7 linked regions of the Homo sapiens genome follow. The protein of the gene in region 1 purifies or fractionates together with the protein of each later gene. This does not show direct contact. Each region holds a gene or a part of one and is shown in the gene's direction. Other genes may lie near its edges.

Region 1 (2,585 bases):
CACTGTGCAGCTGTACGGCCCCACCAACTTTGCCCCCGTGGTCACCCACGTGGCCAGGTGAGTGCCGCTGCCACCGCCTCCAGGCACTCACAAGGCCTCTGTTTCCACACCAGCTCTGCCTCTGGGTGGTGGGAGGGGGTTTCTCTTCCCACGCACTTGCCTTTCAGGGAGCCCTGACCCTGAAGAGATTCCCCCAAGAGCTGTCACCCTCCAAAGTGTTCAGGGTCCTTGTTTAGGGGGGAACATGCCCAGAGGTCCCGCAGACAGACCTGAGCCCACACCTGCCCCACCCAGGAATGCAGCGGCCGTGCAGGATGGCTCCCAGTACTCGGTGCTGCTCATCATTACTGATGGGGTCATCTCGGACATGGCGCAGACCAAGGAGGCCATTGTCAACGTAAGCAAGGAGTGTGCGGTGGGGGAGGCGGTTTGAGGAGTGTCTTCCTCCCCGTTAGGGGAACCCTGGGGATGTGCCTACCTCCTTGACCTTAGGGAAATGCTTGGAGATGACTTGGGCGTGGCTTCTCATTTCCCTGCCTCACTGGGCCCCACTGCCCTCATCCACCTTCTGGCCTCTGGCTGCAGAGTCCGGTGCTGGATAGTGGATTCTAGCGGGTGGAAGGGGTGCCCAGATCATGAGAGATCTGGCTGGTGAGCTCTGTTCCCACCTCTTAGTCACGCTCTGGTCTACTCCCTCCAGACCCCAATGACTCCCTCATTAACCCATCTCTAGGACCGCTTCCCCCTTTCCCAGGCCAGCCTGGCCAGGTCAAAGGAGTGGGAGGGGAGGCTCAGAGTTGGGGAAGCTCAGGAACATGGCTCCCCAAGCCGGTGGTCTCCCTGTAAGAGGGGATGGGGGTGACTCACCAAAGCAGACCTATGACCCATTCCCCCTGCCACCCTCCCTCTCTCCTCCAGGCGCAGCCTGGTTTCCTTTGCTCTTTATCTCTGAGTGCCCTCCCTCTCCCTACCCCCTTTTCTGTGTTTCTCTGTCTCTCCATGTTCACTCTCCCATTTCTTTCCTGCCCACCCCTTCCTGTCCTACCCCTGATTTCTCCTTCCTTTTAACTGGGTCCCAATTGGGTCCAACCTTTCCCTGCCCCCCATGCTGTCTCCCAGGCTGCCAAGCTCCCCATGTCCATCATTATCGTCGGCGTGGGCCAGGCAGAGTTCGACGGTGAGTCCAGCTGCTGCCTTCCCCTCCTTTCCTTCCCTAGCCACGCAACCCTGCCCCCACCCCAGATGTTTCCCCAGAGGCTGTGGTCCCCTGGGAATGACCCCTCCCAAAAGAGTGAGAGCTCCCGCCTGGGCGTGTGTGTCTGGGTGAGTGTGCAGGGTGTGGGACGCATTTGTTTGCTCAGGGAAGGGTGTGTCAGGTCTGGGTGTGCACCCACACCCACATCCCAAGGCTGTGGGGAGGAGGCCCCAAGTCACTTCTTTCTCCTCCAGCCCTGGGAGTCTGGGGAGGGTGGTGAACCAAAGCACTGGGCTCAAAGTCAGAGGCTCACCTGATCGGGCTCCTCCTGGCCCCTGGCCTCAGTTTCCTCATCTCTAACACGGGGCATGGGCCAGTGGTCTCGGCCCTGGATTGGCCTGGGATGAAAGGACAAGTCCACTCTCCTGCTAGGGCCAGGGGTCCACCGTTAATCTCACCCCGCCCCATGACACTCCTCCCCTCACAGCCATGGTGGAGCTGGATGGCGACGACGTGCGGATCTCCTCCCGGGGGAAGCTGGCTGAACGCGACATCGTCCAGGTGAAGCCCAGGCCTTGCCTGCCCCATGGGAAATTCAAGAGCCCCTCTAGCCAGGCGGACCTCACACCCCCTTTGGGGGCTTCCCTGGTGAAGGGCCCAGAAGGGAGGCACTGGGAGCCCCAAAGTGGCCCAGCCACCACCGAAGGGAGTAGGAGTCAGTCCTCGGCCATGCTGTGGTCTGGGCTGGGCCCCCCTCTGTCACATCTGGGACACACTCCTAACATTGCGGGTGCCCAGCCAGAGGCCAGAACCCTCTGCCAGCCCTTCCTCAGCCTCCAGGCCTCTGTGGTCAGCCTCGTTCTGGTTTTTTTCTGCCCCTTGAAGGCTGAGGCAGTGTCTTTAGTGTTGCTGCAGCCTTCTCCAAGAATAGGCATTGCTCGGTTAACTGAATCAATGTAAGCATCTCCATGAACGGTGCAAATATAATGAGCAGAAAGACCTTTGTCCTCAGGGAATTCCCATGCAGTCTCACGTGGAAGAATGCACCCTCCGCAAGCACTTCCCCCACTCATCCCCTGCAGAGGAGGCCCTAGTGCTTAGGAGATGCAGAAGACAAAGCTGACATCCTGCATACCCCCTTGGTTTAAAAATTGGGGCCCAGTATCCCAGGTGTGGAGACCAAACATAGGGGGCTGGAAACCAGAGCAAGACAACCTGGGAGGTGGGACCGGCCCATGCTAAGGCCTGGAGGCAGGAGTGAGCCAGAAGAGGCGCTCAGGATGGAGGGCACCCCCGGGAAGAAGCCAGATGGGCCTGGCATTAGGCATTGGCCAGATTAGCCCCAGAGAGAAAAGGAACGAAGAGAGGCCAGAGAGAGAGGGCTCTGCTG
Region 2 (3,500 bases), on another chromosome or scaffold:
CATAATATTTATTACTGTGAACTTGGATGAAGTCACCTAGGGAAGGAGTAAATATAGGTAAGAAAAGAGGTTCAAGGATACTCCAAAATATTTAGAGATCAAGTTAAAGAGGATCCAGCTAAGGAGACTAAGAAAGAGTAGCTAGAAAAGTAGAGAACTGAAAGACAAGAAGGATGTTTAGAAGCCAAATGAAGTGTTTGAGGAACAGGAAATAATAGACTCTGTCAAATGCTCCTGGTGAGTCAGGTTGAAGACTGAGAATTCACCATTAGATTTAGCAATGTGGAGGCCATTGGCAAGTTTTATGGAATGGTAAGAATGAAAACCTTGAAGTGGATTCAAGATAATGGAAGGGGAGGAATTTGAATTAGTGAGGTTGACACTACGTGGTTTTGATTTTGTCTCTAGTACCAGTGGGGTATAGAAAGTAATCAGTCACTACTTAAGAGGGCTGAAGAGGAAGCAGTGACCCCAGAAGAATGACCAGAAAGAAAGCTGAGTATATAGAGATTTTGCTTGTGCCTCACCATGAACCTCATGAGACTCAATGATTAAGAGTCAAGAAGAGGTGGTCAGATTAGGGAAGGAATGTTGCTCTCTGAGGATAGAGTTGAGGTAGTAAGAAATGCGTTGGTAATCATTGACTCCTTGAGGTTATGTCATAAAGCTGATGAAGTCTTGATATAATTAATCTTCATGCCCAGACACTGATAGCGGATTTCTTTTTTGTTGAGATGGAGTCTAGCTCTGTCGCCCAGGCTGGAGTGCAGTGGCACGATCTCGGCTCACTGTAACCTCTGCCTCCTGGGTTCAAGTGATTCTCTCTCCTCAGCCTCCCAAGTAGCTGGGATCACAGATGCCCTCCGCAACAGCTGGCTAATTTTTGTATTTTTAGTAGAGACAAGGTTTCGTCATGTTGGCCAGGCTAGTCTTGAACTCCTGACCTCAATTGATCCACCAGCCTTGGCCTCCCAAAGTGCTGGGGTTACAGGCATGAGCCACCACACCCCGCCTTACTCTTTATTATTTTAAAGTAAATCCCATACATCTTATAACTAAAATCTGGTTTATTGGGGGTAGAACCTAGTAGAACAATGCTTTAGCAAGAGTCATGAATCAAAAAAGAGAAGGCACAAATAAAATAATATTAGAGATAAAAAAGGTACAATATAGGCTTCAAAATACGTGAATACATTGACACCCTTATGCCAATAGTTTTGAAAATTTGAAACAAAGGTATAATTTTCTAGGAATATGTAAATTAACAACTTACCCAGTTTACCTAAGAAAAAAATAAAAATATTTATTTACATTGATTATCCAAACATTAAACATATGATCTAAATGTTAACATATGTAAGATAATCATTTCTGGTACATATTTATGTGCTTTAATCAGTTTCTTAGCCTGTCTGTCCCATGGTATTGCTGATATTTTTCTGAAAAATATATTTTTAATACAGTGTTATTTTAATTTTTCTCATAAAAAATTAGCTGTAGCCTTGTTTAGAGTTGCATTTTATGCTGAATAAATTTGAAGTTAAATCTTCAATTCTTTTCTTTTTTTTATTTGTTTGAGTCAGAGTTTCACTCTTGTTGCCCAGGCTGGAGTGCAATGGCACCATCTCGGCCCACTGTAACCTCTGCCTCCCAGGTTCAAGCAATTCTCCTGCCTCAGCCTCCCAAGTAGCTGGGATTACAGGCATGCGCCACCATGCCTGGATAATTTAGTATTTTTAGTAGAGATGGGGTTTCTCCATTGTTGGTCAGGCTGGTCTCGCCTCCCAAAGTGCTGGGATTACAGGCGTGAGCCACCATGCCTGGCCTAGACTATAATATTTTTTAATGAGAAAAATGTTAGGTTCTAAGGTACTTGGCAGGCTCAGAGCAAATTCTACTAGCTGGGAGAGTCATAATTTTTAAGAATTTGTTTTAATTGAAATGGGTAAATACTTCAGCCTCAGTATTTTTATAGGTTCTGTCTTTTTATCTCCATTCAGGGTACACTTCTTCAATAATAGGGTCTTCACTGTTTTTAAGGACAAAATTCATCAAGTTGTCTATGATTCTTTTGGATGTTTCACAGATTTTAAGCCTACTCTTTTATTTCATTCTGGCACAGAACATAAATTAATACAATTAAAAATAGGAGTTCTATCAAAATATTCTTCCCACAAGTCAAGATATTCCAAAGTACAGTTACAGAATTTTAAAATGAAATCATTCACCATTTCAGCTTTTCATGTACAATTTGTTCAATTCTTATTTGCTTTTGTAGGGATAAATTTCAGTGTCTTCCTGTGCATAAGTTTTGTTTTCATGAATTGCATTTCACTAAAAGCTTCAAAAGCTTAAGTTTAATGCTTTGATTAAAGATGTCTGTTTTCAACTAAATGCAACTAAGATTTAGAGGACTTGTTTCTAATAATAATAATACCATTATTACAGTAGGACACTTAGGTTGTTTTACAGAGTCGCTCGCTCTTCAAAGGCTTAAAGATTTTAAAAACCCAATCACTCCAAGCAGAGGGAGAAAGTATGTCCTGCAATGCTAGTATTTTTTGTGTATTTAATTAACATCGGTTTGTGCGCTGCTGAGGTGGGAGGATTGCTTGAGGCCAGGAGGTCTAGTAGTTTTTCTGTATATCACATTGATTTGTGTGCAGCTGAGGTGGGAGGATTGCTTGAGCCCAGGTCAAGCCTGCAGTGAGCCGTGGTAGGGCCACTGCACTCCAGCCTGGGCAACAAAAACAGAAACAAAACATGTTTTTTTCAAAAATTCTGTTGTTCAGCAATTCTAGATATAAATAAAATCTGAAAATTTGACAAGTATGGCTTCTTTTTTGTTGGTGTGTTATCTTGCAGCTCATTTGGATAGAATCATGAATTGTAATTCCAAATTCAAGTACTTTTGTGTTTCACAGATTTCCTAATATAGTAAGAACATTGATTTTTCTGGCTGGGTGCAGTGGCTTACGTCTGTAATTCCAGCACTTTGGAAAGCTGAGGTAGGTGTATCACTTGAGGTCAAGAGTTCGAGACCAGGCTGGCCAACATGGTGAAACCCCATCTCTATGAAAATACGAAATTTAGCCAGGTGTGGGTGGTGCGTGCCTGTAATACTAGCTACTTGGGAGGCTGAGGCAGGAGAATCACTTGAACCTGGGAAGTGGAGGTTGCAGTGACCCGAGATGGTGCCACTGCACTCCAGCCTGAGCAACAGAGCAAGGCCCTGTTTCAAAAAGAAAAAAAAAGAATATTGATTTTTCCTACAGCACTGTAGAAAACAATAAAATTAATATGTAGTTATTTGATACAATAAAGGATAAAACCATTTAGAAGAATGTTTAGACTACTCTAAAAGCACTTCTTTCGCAGGACTGCTGAACGCTATTTCCTGCCAAAGTTTGTATTTGTATTACTGTAAAAATTAAGAATTTTATCATTAGTGTTAAACTTTTCAAATAAATTTAGATAGAATCCCCACTGATGTCAGATAT
Region 3 (3,500 bases), on another chromosome or scaffold:
GAAAGCCAAGGACTACATTTCCCATTTTTACTTCCTAGTCTCCTACCTAACAGGAATTGACCTCAAAGATGAAAGTTCATTTCAGTTACTCAGAAACCTAGGAAGATCCAGAGAAAACTTACCCTCTGGGTATTTGTTAATGGTAAACATGACTAAACTCTTATTCCTGTGACAGTATAGTTCCACACTGATGAATATTTACATAGTCTACTGGAGTCTATTTCTTTTTATCTCCTCTTCTCATCTCCTCATTCTTTTTTCTTTTTTTATCTAATTCAATTTTTATAAACATGATGTAGGCATGCAAATATATCCCCAAAATAATTTTGGTGGGTTTATTATCTAATTTCAGATTTATCAATTGAGACCTGCCTTCTAGTTATATTTGATTTTGCCTTTTTGGGTGATATTTTAGTAAATCTTTTAAATTGTGTTAGCATAGTTTTGAAGAATTACATTGTTATTCTATGATGACTTCATGCTGCTTTAAAGAGGTTCATGAGGCTGGGTGCAGTGGCTCATGCCTTTAATCCCAGCACTTTGGGAGGCTGAGGTGGGCAGATCACTTGAGGTCAGGAGTTCGTGACCAGCCTGGCTAACATGGTGAAACCTTGCCTCTGTTAAAAATACAAAAATTAGCCGGGTGTGGTGGCGCGAACCTGTAATCCCAGGTACTTGGGAGGCTGAGGCACGAGAATTGCTTGAACCTGGGAGGCGGAGGTTGCAGTGAGCTGAGATCACACCACTGCACTCCACCCTGGGCAACAGAGTGATACTCTGTCCCCAGAAAAAAAAGCTTTATGAACTTGACATTCATGAATGTAGTAATTAACTTCAAGCAAATAATGGTGGCTAAGTCAATGGAGAATTTATCATTTTTTCTCAGTTCTAATTAATAGGAGTAATGATCATTGTTAGTGTGTTTAGGACTGAAAAGATAGAAAGCCTGTATGTTAAATTTGGGGAGACTTTTCAGAATGAGAAGCTGTGAACATTGGCAAATGCATCTTGGCAAAATTCCAACCTGTACTTTCAGTTGGAAATAGTTCTCTTTGCTCTGAATACTGAACTATTCAATGTTGTGGCTTATTGAATTCCTTACTAGACAATAGTGAATTTCATTGCTTTCGAAGCACTTTTGGGTATATGAAGTTTGGAAGGCTCTTCGTAATTCTTTGCATGAAATCGTTCATCAGTAAGGCATGAGATTTTCTTTTTAAATTTTGTGCCCTTGGGTAACATTACTGTGACTAAATTTTGGACTTTTTTGGCCACAAATGATGGCAAACATTTCTATCTTAGGGTAATGAAAACAAGATAATGTTGGTTGCTGAAAAAGTGAAATTACAATACTTGTACTTTTATCATTTTTTAAGATTCCCTCGTTATGCCACGACCAGATAAGAATCACCAGTGGGTATTCAATAAGAACTGTTTCCCTCTTGTGGATGTAGTGATTGATCCTTACCTTGTATATCATCTTCGACCACATCAGAAAGAAGGAATCATATTCCTTTATGAATGTGTAATGGGAATGAGGTAGGAAAATAAATCATTTGTTTAATCTAATCTGAATTTTGATTTAACCTGTAACACAATAATGGTTTTCTAAGAAGATCCTAATATAATGAGTCCTGAGGGTACACTATGAATTTCAATTGGTAGGAAAGGTGAATAGTGCTTACTGTGTGCATTTATTCCAAAAGTGGTTCTTGATAGATGCCACGTGCCAAACATACTGCTAGGAGGTGGGCATATGGGAATCAGGACCACGGTCCTTACTTTTAAGTGGCTTTTAAAGTATTTGAGTAAACAGATAAATGCAATTGACCTTAATGTGGTATAATAAAAGCTTACCGACTGCTAGTGTGGTAAAGGGTCATAAGAGCAAGTGAAAGAGGCTTTTAATTCTGGTTATAAGAATTTTTTTTTTTTTTTGGAGACGGAGTCTTACTATGTTGCCCAGACTGGAGTGCAATGGCGTTATCTTGGCTCACTGCAATCTCCATCTCCCAAGTTCAAGTGATTCTTGCATCTCAGCCTCCTGAGTAGCTAGGATTACAGGCGTGCTCCACCATGCCTGGCTAATTTTTGTATTTTTAGTAGAGACGGGGTTTCACCATGTTGGCCAGGCTGGTCTTGAACTCTTGACCTCAAGAGATCCACCCACCTCAGCCTCCCAAAGTGCTAGGATTACAGGCATGAGCCACTGCACCTGGTTATGAGAATTTTGGAAAAAGATTTTCTTCTGTCTCTACATCTGAAAATAGAAAAAAGTTTCTTCTTCCTTTTTGCATTTTCTGATTAAAGAATAGTAGTATCTTAAAGATATTTTAGAGGACACAAAAAAACAGGAGAAAAAAAGAATCAAAGGCCCCTGCTAACATTTCTTCCAGTCTTTTTTGTTTATTTGTTTTGGTTTTGTTTTGCCTTGTTTTTAAATGCCAAGACCCTTGATTTTAAAATTTGTCCTTTAAAGGTAGTTGGAAATGAAATTCTCCCCAACTCTAAGAACTCCTTGAATGATGACAAGTTAAGGGAATACTGTCTTCCAGAAACTGTTAACTAGACTCATATTTCCTCCCAAATCTGCTTTTTCTTTCGAAGGTCTTATCTCAGTTGGTCTGTGAATCATCTTTGATTTCTTCTCTCTCACATTCTGAATCTAGTCAAACCTGAACTTTTAATTATTTTAACCTCCTAAATATTGTTTCCTAATCTTTTCTGTCATTCCACTGCAGCATCTCTAGTAACCGATGTCATAAAAATATCATATTTTATCTAGACTATTGCAATGGCTTCTAACCTGTATATTTGCTTCTGATGCTTCTCAAATAATGTATTCTACTTAAAGCCACCATCTTGAGTTTTCTGAAAAACAGTTCTGAACATGGCATTCCCTTATTTAAAATCATTCAGAGACTCTCAGAACTTAGAACAGTGTTTCCCAAACTGTGATCCCTACTCCACTGGCAGTATATGGGACCATTTTGAGGTGGCAAGTGGACAAGCCTTTAAAAAAATTTGAATAGTAGCATATTTAGTTAATTATTGGAAAAATAGGCTGGGCATGGTGGCTTACACCTGTAATCCCAGCATTTTCGGAGGCCAAGGCAGGCGGATCACTTGAGGTCAGGAGTTCAAGACTAGCCTGGCTAACATGGTGAAATCCCGTCTCTACTAAAAATACAAAAATTAGCTGGGTGTGGTGGCAGGCACCTATAATCCTAGCTACTCAGGAGGCTGAGGCAGGAGAATCACTTGAATCCAGGAGGCGGAGGTTGCAGTGAGCCAAGATAGCGCCACTGCACTCCAGCCTGGATGACAGAGCAAGACTCCGTCTGGAGAGGAAAAAAAAAAAAAAGAAAAATAGCACATTAAACTTTTGGTTTCACAGATAAATTATGCTTAGAAAGAGTTTTCTTTTCAAATTTAAGTTAAAATGATTTGAAGAAAAATCATAAATAACATATAGTATCACAGATATGACAACAAATCGT
Region 4 (3,500 bases), on another chromosome or scaffold:
CCAAGGTCACACTATCGCACTCCAGCCTGGGTGACAAGAGCGAAACTCTGTCTCAAAAATAAATAAATAAAATAAAATAAAGTAAAGAAGCAGCTTCCTAGAGCAGATTTGGTTGCTTAAATTGAGGCCAAGTTTCTGGAGTTTTTATTGATAGTTGACAATTACAACTAAAATTTTTTTTTCTCGCTCTGTTACCCAGGCTGGAGTGCAGTGACGCAGTGACGTGATCTTCAGCTCACTGCAACCTCCACCTCCCGGGTTCAAGGGATTCTCCCGCCTCAGCCCCCAAGTAGCTGGGACCACAGGCGTATGCCATATCACTCAGCTAATTTTGTGTGTGCATGGCGTATGCCGTAACACTCAGCTGATTGTGTGTGTGTGTGTGTGTGTGTGTTGTTTTTTTTTTTTTTTTGTGATGGACTCTCACTCTGTCGCCCAGGCTGGAGTGCAGTGGCACAATCTTGGCTCACTGCAACCTCCGCCTCCTGAGTTCAAGCGATTCTCCTGCCTTAGCCTCTGGAGTAGCTCGGATTACAGGCGCGTGCCACCACACCTGGCTGATTTTTATATTTTTAGTAGAGACGGGGTTTTACCATGTTGGCCAGGCTGGTCTCAAACTCCTCACTTCAAGTGATCTGCCCACCTCGGCCTCCCAAAGTGCTGGGATTACAGGCGTGAGCCACTACACCCGGCCTATGTGTGTGTATTTTATTTTTTTATTTTTTTGAGACGGAATTTCTCTCTTGTTGCCCAGGCTGGAGTGCAATGGCGTGATCTAGACTCACTGCAACCTCTGCCTCCCGGGTTCAGGCAATTCTCCTGCCTCAGCCTCCTAAGTAGCTGGGATTACAGGCGCCTGCTACCGCGCCCAGCTAATGTTTGTATTTTTAGTAGAGACCAGGTTTCGCCATGTTGGCCAGGGTGGTCTTGAACTCCTGACCTCAGGTGATCTACCCGCCTCAGCCTCCTTAAGTGCTGGGATTACAGGCATGAGCCACTGCGCCTGGCCAGAAGTTACCTTCTTTGTGCCTGTTTTCTCAGCTGCAAAAGAGGGGTAACAAAGTGCCAGCCCATTAGATTGTCATGGGAATTAAATGACATAATACATACAAAGAGCTTAGTAGAACAGTGCTTGGCACATAGTAAGTGTTAGATAAATGTTGGCCATTATTATTTTATTATGTACCAGATTTCTATAATTCTGCTGATGGACACAGGTTTGTTTTGGTGTGTCTATTAATTCACAGCCATTTGAGTAACAGTATGTCCTAAATGCCAAGGAAGTTACTGGTTCTAGTGATACAGTGGTTTCTGGAGTTTACATTCTAATGGAGGAGGGGGCAGTAAACATATAAACAAGTAGTGTAGCTTAGCACAGTGGTGTGTGGCTGTGATCCCAGCTACTGGGGAGGCTGAGGTTGGAGGATCACTTGAGCCAGGCAATTGAGACTAGCTTGGGCAACTTAGTGAGGCCCCATTTCAATCAAAACAGTGGGCAACACAGACCCCATCTTAATCAAAACAAAAACAAGTAGCATAATTCGAGATAGAAGAGGATGTGGACCTATTTTAAATTAGGTGGCCAGTATGGACTTCTCTAAGGAGGTGACAATTGAGCTGAGACCTAAAGAATGTGTCCCTTAAGAAGTTGAGGGAAGAAGCAATGGGAAGCACTAATGCCAAGGTCCTAAGGTGGGAGCAAGGATGGGAGCAAGGATGATGTTCTCTAGGATCAGCCTCCCGAGTAGCTGGGACTACAGGCACGTGCCACCACGCCTGGCTAATTTTTGTATTTTGAGTAGAGATGGAGTTTCACCATATTGGCCAGGCTGGTCTCGAACTCCTGACCTCAAGTGATCCGACCGCCTCGGCTAATTTTGTGTATTTTTAGTAGAGACGGGGTTTCACCGTGTTAGCCACGATGGTCTCCATCTCCTGAACTCATGGTCCTCCCACCTTGGCCTCCCAAAGTGCTGGGATTACAGGCGTGAGTCGCCGCGCCTGGCACACCCAGCTAATTTTTTTTTGTTTTGTACAGATGGAGTCTTACTTTGTTGCCCAGGCTGGTTTCGAACTCATGGGCTCAAGTGATCCTCATGCCTTGCCCTCCTAAAGTGCTGGGATTACAGGTGTGACCCACTGCGTCCAGCCTGCTGTAGTTTTGTCGGAGAGAAACGATGGTGGCTCAGACTAGAGTGGTGTTTGTGGAACTTGAGGGAAGTAGATGGACAATGCTGCTGTGAATGTGTATCTTTTTTTTTTTTTTTTTTTGAGACAGAGTCTCACTCTTGTCACCCAGGCTGGAGTGCAGTGGCGCGATCTCGGCTCACTGCAAGCTACACCTTCCGGGTTCACACCATTCTCCTGTCTCAGCCTCCCGAGTAGCTGGGACTACAGGCACCCGCCACCACTCCCGGCCAATTTTTTTTTTTTTTTTTTTGTATTTTTAGTAGAAACGGGGTTTTACCATGTTAGCCAGGATGATCTCAATCTCCTGACCTCGTGATCTGCCCGCCTTGGCCTCCCAAAGTGTTGGGATTATAGGCGTGAGGCACCGTGCCCTGCTGAATGTGTATCATTTTTGTGCCCACTTGGGTATTTCTTTTTTTTTTTTTTTTTTTGAGACGGAGTCTCGCTCTTTCGTCCAGGCTGAAGTGCAATGGTGCGGTCTCGGCTCACTGCAACCTCCGCCTCCCGGGTTCAAGCGATTCTCCTGCCTCAGCTTCCCGAGTAGCTGAGATTACAGGCGCCTGCCACCACTCCCGGCTAATTTTTTTTTTTTTTCTTTTTGAAACAGACCCTTGTTCTGTTGCCCAGGATGGAATGCAGTGGCGCCATCTCGGCTCACTGCAAACTCCACCTCCCGGGTTCACGCCATTCTCTTGCCTTAGCCTCCCGAGTAGCTGGGACTACAGGCGCCCGCCACCATGCCCAGCTAATTTTTTATATTTTTAGTAGAGATAGGGTTTCACCTTGTTAGCCAGGATGGTCTCGGTCTTCTGACCTCGTGATCTGCCTGTCTCGGCCTCCCAAAGTGCTGGGATTACAGGTGTGAGCCACCGTGCCCAGCCCACGCCCGGCTAATTTTTGTAATTTTAGTAGAGATGGGGTTTCACCATGTTGGCCAGGCTGGTCTCGAACTCCTGACTTCAGGTGATCTACCCACCTTGGCCTCCCAAAGTGATGGGATTTGTAAACCCAGCACTTTGAGGGAGGCAGAGGCAGGAAGATTGCTTGAGCCCAGGAGCTGGAGATGAGCCTGGGCAACATAGTGAGACCCTGTGTCTACAAAAAAAAAAAAAAACCCATAAATCAGCCAGGTGCAGTGGTGTGCACCTATAGTCCCAGGACTCAATAGGCCGAGGTGGCGGGATCACTTGAACCTGGGAGGTTGAGGCTGCAGCGAGCCCTGATCTTGCCACTGCCCTTCAATCTGGGTTCACAGAATGAGACCCTGTTTCAATAAAACAAAACGTAAACATGGTATTTGGTGTTGATGG
Region 5 (3,500 bases), about 120 Mb from region 1:
CCTGGCCAACAAAGCGAGGCTCCGTCTCAAAAAAAAAATTATCTATATTTGAGGTATACAGCGTGATGTTGTAATATACATGTATATACTGAAATCATTACTACAGCCAAGCGCTTAACATATCCCTCACCTCACATGATTACCTAAGTGTGTGTGTGTGCGCGTGTATATGTGCAAGTGCGTGCCTGTGGGTGTGTGTGTGGTAAGAGCACCTAAAATCTCCCTCAGCAGGTTTCCCAAATATAATGCAATATCATTAACTGTAGTCCTCATGCTGTACATGAGATCTCTAGACTTATCCTACATGACTGCAACTTTGTACCTTTGACCTGCATCTCCCTAGTTCCCCGTCTCCCTGCCCCTGGTAACCACCTTTCTACTTTCTGCTTCTATAAGTTTTTTAGATTTTTTTAAAGACCTGTTAAAAGTTCCACATGTAAATAAGATCCATGTGGTATTTTTCTTTGTGTGTGATGTTGAGTGCATTTTCATATACCTCTTGGCCATTTTTTGGTCTTCTTTGGAAAAATGTCAATTTGGGTCCTTTGTCCATTTTTTAATTGAGCTTTTTTTATTTGCTATTGAATTGTGCGAGTTCATTATATGTTTTGAATATTAACAGGTTATCAGATACATGGCTCGCAAATATTTTCTCCCAGCCTATTGCGGGATCTGGCCAGCAGCCCGCAATGCAACGGGGTTCTCTTTGTGTTCCCAGGCGGATCGGCCCGTTGAGAAATAATAGACACACACAAGATAGCGAAAGCTGGGTCCGGGGGGGTCACTGCCTTCTGGTCCTGCAGTGCCAACAATGCACTGGATATACCAGCATTTATTATTAAGTTTAGTGAGGGCGGGGGTAGGTTAGTGAGGGATTTAGGGTCATTTGATTATGAGGTGAGATGGTCACATGGGGATGAAGTAATTCTTTAACATAACATCTGTATGCAGAAGTACAGTATACAGAGATAAGAATTTACAATATAGTGTATGCATCAGTAATTTCTGACAGAGCCTTAAAACAGAAACACAGTCTTTCCATAACCTATGATTAGCAAGATATTAATCAGCAGTAACAGTTGCAGCAAAAGCTGGTTACAAACAATCCGTAGAAACAGGACGTGAAGCTAGACAACCTGTTAGACCAGAAATTCTCAGAAGGGAGTATGCCTTAACCCTAAAGAGGCCCAGAAGAGCCCTGGCAAGATGAGGGCGTTTATAGCCCTATCTTATCCATATGGACGGTGCCCCCATGTGTCTGTTTATAGGCTCTTTACAAGGGTCACTTTCCATTCCCAGAGCTATGAATATCTGCTTTTCTGGGATAGGAATCTTGGTGATGTGAAACCTCCCTGACTGCACATCCATTCATAGGCTCTCTGCAGGGGGAAGCACATCACATGCTGTTGGCTCATTCTGGCAGTCCCACCTGGCACTGTCTTTACACAATCCTGCATGCAATTTTGTATTTACAATAATCAGGAGCATTTCATCTTTTATTCCATAGCAATAGTTTCAGGGGGTCTCCCTACACCAGCCCATAGGCTACCTTTTCATTTTGATTGTTTCCTTTGCTGTTCAGAAGCTTTTTAGTTCCATGTAGTCCCGCCTGTTATTTTTGACTTTGTTCCCTGTGCTTTTGGTGTAATACTCAAAAAAACATTTGCCAAGGCCAGCGCCAAGGAGCTTTTCCCCTGTGTTTCCTTCTAGGAGTTGTGTGGTTTCAGGTCTTCCATTTAGGTCTGTAATCTATTTTAAGTTGATTTTTGTGTGTGGTGTAAGACAAGGTCCAGTTTTATTCTTTTGCATGTAGATACCTGGTTTTCCCAGCACGACTTACTAAAGAGACTGCCCTTTCTCCACTGTGTCATCTCGGTGCCCGTGTCAAAAATTTAAAAGTAATCTGATAGCCCTCTTTAAGTTGCTTCTGATTTGTCTTTTGCACTAAAAGAATCTGTAATTCAAGGCTTAAAATTGACTACACAGCCTTTACTCTTAACATCCATATTATACTCCTATACTATACCCTTTTCTCCATCAAAAAAAAATTGATTTGCCCAGTAGGTAGTTACTGTCAGAAAATTAAGTAATTTCATTTTTATTTTGGTCTTTTTTTTTTTTTTAACTGATGATCTTCCATTTTCACCTCTAGCAACTGGTGATGATGATGACTGGGATGAAGACTGGGATGGGCCCAAATCCTCTTCCTACTTTAAGGATTCAGAGTCAGCTGATGCAGGCGGCGCTCAGCGAGGAAACAGTCGTGCTAGTTCCTCATCCATGAAAATTCCCCTTAACAAGTAAGTTTAAAGGGGAGCCAGGGAACCAGGGCCGTGGTAGAAGTATACATTAATACAAAGTATATACCCTACCAAGAGGCAGCTGGCCTTTTCCCTTTCCAGTGATCTCCTAAGTTTTGGATATGATTCAGTTATTTTTATTTGGATCTTAACTGAGAAGCTTACTTAAAAAAAAAAAAGGATTTTTGATTTACAAGGTTAATAAGTGAAATATTTATTTTATTTAATGATTTCCCAAACTGTTTTCATTACTTCTAGCTTTATCAATTTATGACATATTAAGGTTTCATTGCTAATGTCACAGGAAAGCTAAAAAGAATAATAATAACAACTCTCTTTTAAATGTTTTACTGTTTTGTTAATCACTTGCCATGTGCCAGGCATTGTGCAGAGAGGTTTGTATCATTCGCATGTAGCCCTCATATCCCTTTGTGGTACATAAAACCCCTGTTTTACTGCAGGCAAACTGATGCCCAGAGAGACGCATCGAGTGTTCCAGTCAGGAAGCCAGGCCCTCAGGCGCCAAAGCACGTGTTTCAGCTCCTGTGCCTAAAAACGTGGTCCGGAGCTTTGTGTTAGCTTAGGTTTCTCTTAGATTTAAAACAAAAAAAAAAGTGTTGTGTTTTATTTTTTTGTTTTGAGACAGGCGTCTCGCTCTGTCACCCAGGCTGAAGTGCAGTGGTGCGATCTTGGTTCACTGCAACCCCAACGTCCCGGGTTCAAGCAATTCTCGTGCCTCAGCCACCTGAGTAGCTGGGATTACAAACATGTGCCACCGCGCCCAGCTAATTTTTGTATTTTTAGTAGAGACGAGGTTTTACCACGTTGGCCAGGCTGGTCTCAAGCTCCTGGTCTCAAGTGATCCGCCCGCCTCTACCTCCCAAAGTGCTGGGATTACAGGCTTGAGCCACCACACCTAGCCAAAAAAAAAAAGTTTTTAACAGTACTTGTAGATACCCTACTTAACAGGAAAGCATGTGGGCACCAGTGACCACTGTAGGATTCTTTGGAGAGACCTAAATAAGGCTGTAGTCTATGCCAGTGTAGCTTGAAGGAGATATATTAGTAATTTATGACTTCCATCAGAATTTTCAAGTACTCCTTCCAGCAGTTATGTTTAGTTTATTTTTTGAAATTACTAATACTTTTTCCCAATATTCCAATTCCATGATTCAAGGCAGATATCAAAGAATGTTAATC
Region 6 (3,500 bases), on another chromosome or scaffold:
GGGGAGGGAGAGCACTAGGACAAATACCTAATGCATGCGGGGCTTAAAACCTAGATGATGGGTTGATAGGTATAGCAAACCACCATGGGACATGTATACCTATGTAACAAACCTGCACATTCTGCACATGTGTCCCAGAACTTAAAATAAAAAATAATTGCATTTCAGATTGTTAACTCTGTTTTTCTTTAATTGATGCATTTGCTGACCTGTCTACTGTATCCTTTGCCCAAAGGAGATGCAGAAACTACCAGAGGCCGTTCAGCTAATTGAGAAGGCCAGCATGATGTATCTAGAAAACGGCACCCCAGACACAGCAGCCATGGCTTTGGAGCGAGCTGGAAAGTGAGTGTGAGATGGACAAGTCTCTGCATAGAAGTCTTGTCTTTTTGTTTTAAAGAGGTCCCTGAAAAACAAGTTTTCCATTTCTCATATAAGACATGTTTTCTTGTCTGATTCAGGCTTATAGAAAATGTTGATCCAGAGAAGGCTGTACAGTTATATCAACAGACAGCTAATGTGTTTGAAGTAAGTTTGAATCTTATTTTTTTCTTTAATTACTTAGAATGTTTAGATTAATAATATATAGGAAAATAGAGAAGTGCAGTGGCTACTTTTAAAACTTTTCCCTGCTCACAGTTGCACGCTATTTCTTTTCTGTTAGAGAGTAGTGAAATGAACTAGCAGCTTTCGTGTTCCCCCCTTGATCCAGTGCCATTACTTCTTTACAAAATAAATATTAGGGGATAAAAACATTTCAACATTAAAGCAGCCAACACTTGTTTTTCTTTGATTCCTTCAGAATGAAGAACGCTTACGACAGGCAGTTGAATTACTAGGAAAAGCCTCCAGACTACTAGTACGAGGACGTAGGTATGTCTTTAAAAACTATTGCTGTGTGTTTAACTATACTTTGAATCCACATTTGGAACTGGAAAGTAATTTGGGGGATAGCTTGTTAATTTTTTGGTATAAGCTGTAGACACACCAGGCCACACAATAGAATATTAACATTTACTAGACAGTAGGCACACTGAATTAGATATTAAAAGATCTGCTGTTTTTTGAAAGTGTAATGCCCAAATTTATCATGCACTGTGCTTTTATTGGTTGAACCCTGGCTCAGCAACATGAAAGGGAACAGTTTCCTTCATCTGTTACTTGGTTGGATTATAATATCTCTCTCAAGGAAAAATAAGAATATTAGGATAAATGACAAAGATGCATAAACACTCACCCATGAAAACTGACAGGTTCTTGACAAATAGTGTCATTATTAGAATATTTACCTTGTTATCGTTTCACATATGACCTGAAGCACAAATAGTTGAACCTCAGAAAGCTAAAATCCTATTGGGATTTCCTTTTGTTTTTTTACTTTATCTCAGTTTACTTTTAGTAAACAATTTTTTTCATTAATAAAATTCTGTCTCAATAATATTTAAGATAAACATCTCTAGGAGATTGTAAGTCTGCAGATATCTTAATTGAAATTTGTCCAAAGCTTCCCAGTAACAGAAAACACCCAAGATCCATTTAATATGTCAAGGAATCAAAATAGAAATGACTGATGAATCTATCCTATCTGAGACTGAATTAAATTTTTTCTTCATGAAGACTGCAGATTCTGAAATACAATTTAAACCGGTCTAGAGTAATATGAGAATAAATTAATCTAGAATTAACTATTAAACAATCTCATTTAGATTAATTTGTTTATAGGACCTTCCTTCACTGAGGAGTATTTTTTTGTCTAAATGGAATAGAAATTTCATTTTGTTTTTAAATTAGGACTTTAATCATGAAGGAAAGTTTAATTTAAATGTCAGTCCGGGGTCATTATCTTTATTCATCTTATTACTTACTCGTCGCTTCCCAGAAATCAGTGAATGAAATGCTAACTCTGACAAATCCCAACTTAAAAATGGTTCACTTTAGTTTCTGAAAGTGTTTGTTACAGCAGCAGAGCTGTTCTTGGTGATGGCGTTATGGCTGTGGCAAAATAGCTGAACTGTGAGGTGATACCAAGGTTCTGACTTGTGAGCAGGGGCCCCATGTCTTAGAAACAGTGTCCTTCATTCTTTTCAGGGCAGCTAGGAGGCAAGTTTTAGCATAGTTTACCTCCTTTCTCTTCTGTTCTCATCTCCTGATGCTCCCCGACAAGACTCCCAGTGCCTTTCTAGAGCGCTAAGCCCCTTACTATAAGACCCCATGGAAGGTGAAGGAAGTGAAGTTGCAGGAAGGGGCAGAAGTTAAGGACAGCCCTGTGTGAAAGTCCAGACTGCATCAGCTCCCCTGAAGTATTTCTGCTTTCCACATCTTCTTTCCTTTTGTTTCTCAAGGTATAGATTATCTAAAGCTGTGTTGTAGAGGGAGTAGCAGGAAAGGAGAGAGGCCAGGATCTTTTCGGGGGAGGTCAGATGAGGAACGTTTTCCAGCTGCCTGTGCATATTCCTTTAGAAAGCTCCACTAGGGATGGGGGCCACCATCATCCTCAAAACATTACCAGTGTTGCCAGTCGGTTTGGACACATCTGATGAAAGCCATTGTTTTAAAGCAATTACTGTGTTAAATTCTTCAAAGCCTCAGCAGAGGGGAGAATGCTAGTTGAGTGAGCAGCAGAAGTGAGAATGCTGCGTAGATGTGCTCAAAGGGCACATTTATAAATCCAGGGCTTTTATTCGTGACTTTGTTTTATTGGTTTTTTTTTTTTCTTTTTAGGAAAAATGTATTTTAAAATGGTACTTTCTACTGTGCTCAACAAAAATGTTATGGAAATATATTTTTGAAGTGTATTAACAATATAAAAATTAATTTAAATTTGTGCAGGAACATGAAGGAATTTGATCTTTTGAAAAGTGTTGCTGGGTATCTTGGTATGAAAAAATTAAGTCTACTGTCATGGTACTTCTATTGGGAACTTAAATAGTGCAGGATAAGAAAAAACATGCAGTGTTTATAGTGATGGAGACATTATTGAGATGATTTATGTGATAATTGAAAATATTAACTATGTGCTTAGATTATTATTTGATTGCATCTGTTGCCTAAAAGAACTAAACAGGTGGTAATTTTATGCTTCACACAAGCAACATCTACTAATAGACTGTGTGGCATGGAGTCTAAAGTTTTATGTTTGTTATATTTAGTTAGTGCACTTATGTTTTTACATTAACATGAGTCCATAAGATGTCCTAATTTAATACTTTCTATGTTAGTGTAGCAAAGAATCTATTTAATATATTAATCTCTTGCTTCTCCTTCAGTTTTGGAGAGTCAAAATTCAGAAGTGATTCGTAGTTTCATTTAGATTACATCTGGGAAAAGTCAGTCCAAGGCCAGTGCCCTTGTTCCTTTTTAGAAAAGGCCTTTCCAGGCTGGGTGCAGTGGCTCATGCCTGTAATCACAACACTTTGGGAGGCTGAGGCAGGCAGATCACCTGAGGTCAGAAGTTCAAGATTAGCCTTGGCCAAATGGTGAAACTCCTTCTCTACTAAAAA
Region 7 (3,500 bases), on another chromosome or scaffold:
CCACTGGCATAGGATGGATGGAGAGGGAATAGGATGAGACGAGTAAAGAGTGAAGGCTAGACCTCCAAATAATATTGGCGTTTAAGAGACTGGCCAGTTAGGATCAATATATAAAAGATACTGAGGAGAAATGGTCATAAAGGTCAGAGGAGAACAGAAGAAAGTTGGGGTTACAAAAACCAAAGAAAACTAGATTCATTATCAGGAGAATGGATAAATTGTGATATATACAATCATGCATTGCTTAATGATGAGGATATGTTATGAGAACTGCATCATTAGGCAGTTTTGTCATTGGGCGAATATCAGAGAGTGTACTTACACAAACCTAGCTGATGTAGCCTGTTACACACCTAGGCTATATCGTTTAACCTATTGCTCCTGTACAAAACTGTACAGCATGTTACAGTACTGAATACTGTAGGCAGTTGCAACACAATGGTATAGAAAAGGTACAGTAAAAATATGGTATTACAGTCTTACAGGACCACCATTATATATGTGGTCTGCTGTTGACCCAAACATCATTATGTGGTGCATGACTGTATATAAAATGAAATACTACACAGCAGTTAATATGAATGAACTAATACATGCAGCAACATGGATAAATCTAACAGACATTATGTTGTGCTTAAGCCAGACACAAATTAGAATGAACTTATATTTCTATTTTTATGCATTTTAAGATTAGGAAAAATTATTTATAGTGAGCAGAAGAGGGTTTGTCTTTGGGCAGGAGGAGGGGGACATGGTTTGAATAGTATTGGCTAGGAAGGGACATGAAGGGACCTTCTAGGGATGAGGAAATATTCTATATCTTGATCACGGTTTCGTAGGCATATACACATAAAAACATTTCTTAAGCCATACTCTGAAGATTTGTGCACTTTATGTAAATTATACCTTGGTTTTTTAAAAAGCTGATTAGAGGCCGGGCGCAGTGGCTCATGCCTGTAATCCCAGCACTTTGGGAGGCTGAGGCAGGGGGATCACCTGAGGTCAGGAGTTCGAGACCAGCTTGGTCAACCTGGCGAAACCCCGTCTCTACTAAAAATACAAAAATTAGCTGGGCGTGGTGGTGGGCGCCTGTAATCCCAGCTACTCGGGAGGCTAAGGCAGGAGAATCGCTTGGACCCAGGAGGCAGAGGTTGCAGTGAGCCAAGATTGTGCCATTGCACTCCAGCCTGGGCAACAAGAGCGAAATTCCATCTCAAAAAAAAAAAAAAAATACTACCAATTAGAGAATTTTGAAAAGGAATGATGGACCACAGTGATAAGTATTGCTGAGACTAGTAGGATAAGGACTGAAAAGCTAGATGGTACGTTCAGGTAAGAACAGGAGCCCTTACTTCTAGGATGCTATTGTGTTCCTGGTAGGTGCACAGTAATTTTGGTAAACTGAATTGAATTGTTGATGGCCAATATTTTTCTTATTTAGGCAAGAAATACCGCCCACGAATGGATCAGGAAGTCTCTGACCAAGCCATTAGCAGAGAATGAAGAAGGAGAAAAACAGTCGGAAGCAGAAAATACTGAGCAAGTCAACAAAAATTCAATAGAGGTAGCCAAAGCAACTAAGCCTTTTTTGTTTGTTTTAGTAGATTTGAAATGTGTCACAATCAGGGACCCAGGCTCCTATTTTTACACTGCTGTCCGTAATTTCAACCTTGTGATCTAGGATTGTAGCATCTTAGATCCAGACTATAAGATTAAAGGAGGAGTGAAGAAAAAAAGAGAGAAAGGATGCGCGTGTGTTTTGTCATGAGGAAGGTTCCCAGAAACTGCTGCCTGACACTTGTTATCTAAATCATTTGGCCAAAACTTAGTTACTTCGTCACACCTGACTTCAGGGGAGCCCAGCTGTAAAATTATATCACTACTGTGGAAGAAGAAGACACTCTTTATTGGAAGGCAACTATTAGTCTCTGCTACAAATCCTGTAGTATGAGAGAAGTAAGGTGGTATCTTTCCACCAAATGTTTTGTTTTGCTATGCTTTGTTTTGTTTTTCCATCCAGGATATCCATGCGTTTGCAATCCGGAGCCTGGCTGAACTGACTGCCTGCTCAATTGAACTATTCCACAAAACAGCTGCATTGGTTCTGCATGGCAGGAAGCAGGAAGTGACAGCCATAGAAAGGAGCCAAACTCTTTCCCAGTAAGTGTAATGAGAATTCCTCTAAATGATGCAAATTGCAGGAGTTTTCTTGGCCTGTTTCCAAAGTTTTATAAACGTCTCTCTCAAGAAACCATTCACGTCACACCCATCCACATATTAGATGGTTTGTTCATTTTGGTTGTTTTTTTCTTTTCATTGAACCATGATAAATCAATATTATAAATATGCCCTTTTTATTAACCAACTCATGCTCTGAAGACTATTTCTTTACAGATAAGTTTTAATAGGAATGGAATTTGGTATAAGTGAAAACAGAGAAGAGTTCTAAGAACCTCAGTTCTTAATAATAGTTATTATTGAGTGCTAATTTTATACCATTCCAAGTGCCATGCTAAGGGATTTGCATGTATAATTTCTAATTTTTATACCTCCAAAAGTAAGTAATTAGTCCAGTTTTAATCATGAGGAAATGCAAACTGGAGGAGTTAAGTAATCTGTCTGTGCTGTATGGCCTGGGATTTAGCCCCAGGTCTGACTGAGTGTCCTGAACCCATTCTTTTTTTCTCATTTTATTGCTGATTTGTACAAAAATTTTTCAAAAATAGTATAGATAATCATAGGTAGGGAAGAAAAAGCCCAGTAGTTTCTAAGCAAATGTCCTGATTAAAATAATGAGAATTTTCATTGGAAACAAATGTATAAGAGTGCCCATTATTAGAACTGGGAGGGGCTGTCAGTCTTCTGCAGACTTCCTCTTTACTTGCACCATCACCATCCCACTACAGCACCCCATAATAGGGGGCTAATTTGTCTTCTTGAACTTCCTTAAGGATGAGAGACTCACAACCCTAAAAGGAGCCTGTTCTGCGGAAAAGAGGCTATTTCTGCTACTTGGAATGTTCTTTGAAATGGGGTTCACTCCCTCTCTGAATTCAAGTCTACTCAAATGCCACCTTTTTAGAAAAGCCTTCCTTCACCACAAAGTCTAAAATAGCAACTTCCACCATTCTCTGTCCTTTTACTCTGCTTTATTGTCTTAGCTTATATCACCAAGTAGGACTTACATGTATATGAATATATATGTGTGTATATGTATACATATGTGTGTATGTGTATATATGTATATGTATATAGTCTCCCCCTTAATTTAGCAAGTAAGTTGAAATCCATGAAAACTGGGACTTTTCTTGTTCACTGATATGTTCCCATTGCTTGAAAGACTTTAAATAAAATCTGGCACACACAAGACTTTAGGTAACTATTATTAAAGATGGACTAATCACTTACTTTTGGAGTTGTTGTAAAAATTAGAAATGATACATGTAAATCCCTTAGCATGGTGCCTGGCATAAAATTAGCACCCAGTAACTAATAACTAA

Evidence for each region.
Region 2: the proteins of CPNE5 (region 1) and WDHD1 purify together in Homo sapiens (affinity purification with mass spectrometry; 2 studies listed by BioGRID and IntAct, with this or other methods). This does not show direct contact.
Region 3: the proteins of CPNE5 (region 1) and RAD54B purify together in Homo sapiens (affinity purification with mass spectrometry; 2 studies listed by BioGRID and IntAct, with this or other methods). This does not show direct contact.
Region 4: the proteins of CPNE5 (region 1) and SAE1 purify together in Homo sapiens (affinity purification with mass spectrometry; one large-scale study listed by BioGRID and IntAct). This does not show direct contact.
Region 5: the proteins of CPNE5 (region 1) and SNX9 purify together in Homo sapiens (affinity purification with mass spectrometry; 2 studies listed by BioGRID and IntAct, with this or other methods). This does not show direct contact.
Region 6: the proteins of CPNE5 (region 1) and NAPG purify together in Homo sapiens (affinity purification with mass spectrometry; 2 studies listed by BioGRID and IntAct, with this or other methods). This does not show direct contact.
Region 7: the proteins of CPNE5 (region 1) and FAM114A2 purify together in Homo sapiens (affinity purification with mass spectrometry; 2 studies listed by BioGRID and IntAct, with this or other methods). This does not show direct contact.

Annotation. Positions count from the first base shown.
Region 1 is NC_000006.12:36,742,860-36,745,444, reverse strand, and holds part of CPNE5 (copine-5), read left to right. Parts: coding exon 1-57; intron 58-294; coding exon 295-397; intron 398-918; coding exon of another isoform or gene 919-1,068; exon of another isoform or gene 1,069-1,113; intron 1,114-1,119; coding exon 1,120-1,177; coding exon of another isoform or gene 1,178-1,323; intron 1,324-1,682; coding exon 1,683-1,756; coding exon of another isoform or gene 1,757-2,155; exon of another isoform or gene 2,156-2,194; intron 2,195-2,585. UniProt on the Homo sapiens protein: Probable calcium-dependent phospholipid-binding protein that may play a role in calcium-mediated intracellular processes. Plays a role in dendrite formation by melanocytes.
Region 2 is NC_000014.9:55,017,100-55,020,599, reverse strand, and holds part of WDHD1 (WD repeat and HMG-box DNA-binding protein 1), read left to right. Parts: intron 1-3,500. UniProt on the Homo sapiens protein: Core replisome component that acts as a replication initiation factor. Binds directly to the CMG complex and functions as a hub to recruit additional proteins to the replication fork.
Region 3 is NC_000008.11:94,402,116-94,405,615, reverse strand, and holds part of RAD54B (DNA repair and recombination protein RAD54B), read left to right. Parts: intron 1-1,376; coding exon 1,377-1,539; intron 1,540-3,500. UniProt on the Homo sapiens protein: Involved in DNA repair and mitotic recombination. May play an active role in recombination processes in concert with other members of the RAD52 epistasis group.
Region 4 is NC_000019.10:47,137,335-47,140,834, forward strand, and holds part of SAE1 (SUMO-activating enzyme subunit 1), read left to right. Parts: intron 1-3,500. UniProt on the Homo sapiens protein: The heterodimer acts as an E1 ligase for SUMO1, SUMO2, SUMO3, and probably SUMO4. It mediates ATP-dependent activation of SUMO proteins followed by formation of a thioester bond between a SUMO protein and a conserved active site cysteine residue on UBA2/SAE2.
Region 5 is NC_000006.12:157,899,746-157,903,245, forward strand, and holds part of SNX9 (sorting nexin-9), read left to right. Parts: intron 1-2,152; coding exon 2,153-2,300; intron 2,301-3,500. UniProt on the Homo sapiens protein: Involved in endocytosis and intracellular vesicle trafficking, both during interphase and at the end of mitosis. Required for efficient progress through mitosis and cytokinesis. Required for normal formation of the cleavage furrow at the end of mitosis.
Region 6 is NC_000018.10:10,539,527-10,543,026, forward strand, and holds part of NAPG (gamma-soluble NSF attachment protein), read left to right. Parts: intron 1-235; coding exon 236-345; intron 346-461; coding exon 462-528; intron 529-802; coding exon 803-873; intron 874-3,500. UniProt on the Homo sapiens protein: Required for vesicular transport between the endoplasmic reticulum and the Golgi apparatus.
Region 7 is NC_000005.10:154,000,911-154,004,410, reverse strand, and holds part of FAM114A2 (protein FAM114A2), read left to right. Parts: intron 1-1,441; coding exon 1,442-1,564; intron 1,565-2,020; coding exon 2,021-2,160; intron 2,161-3,500.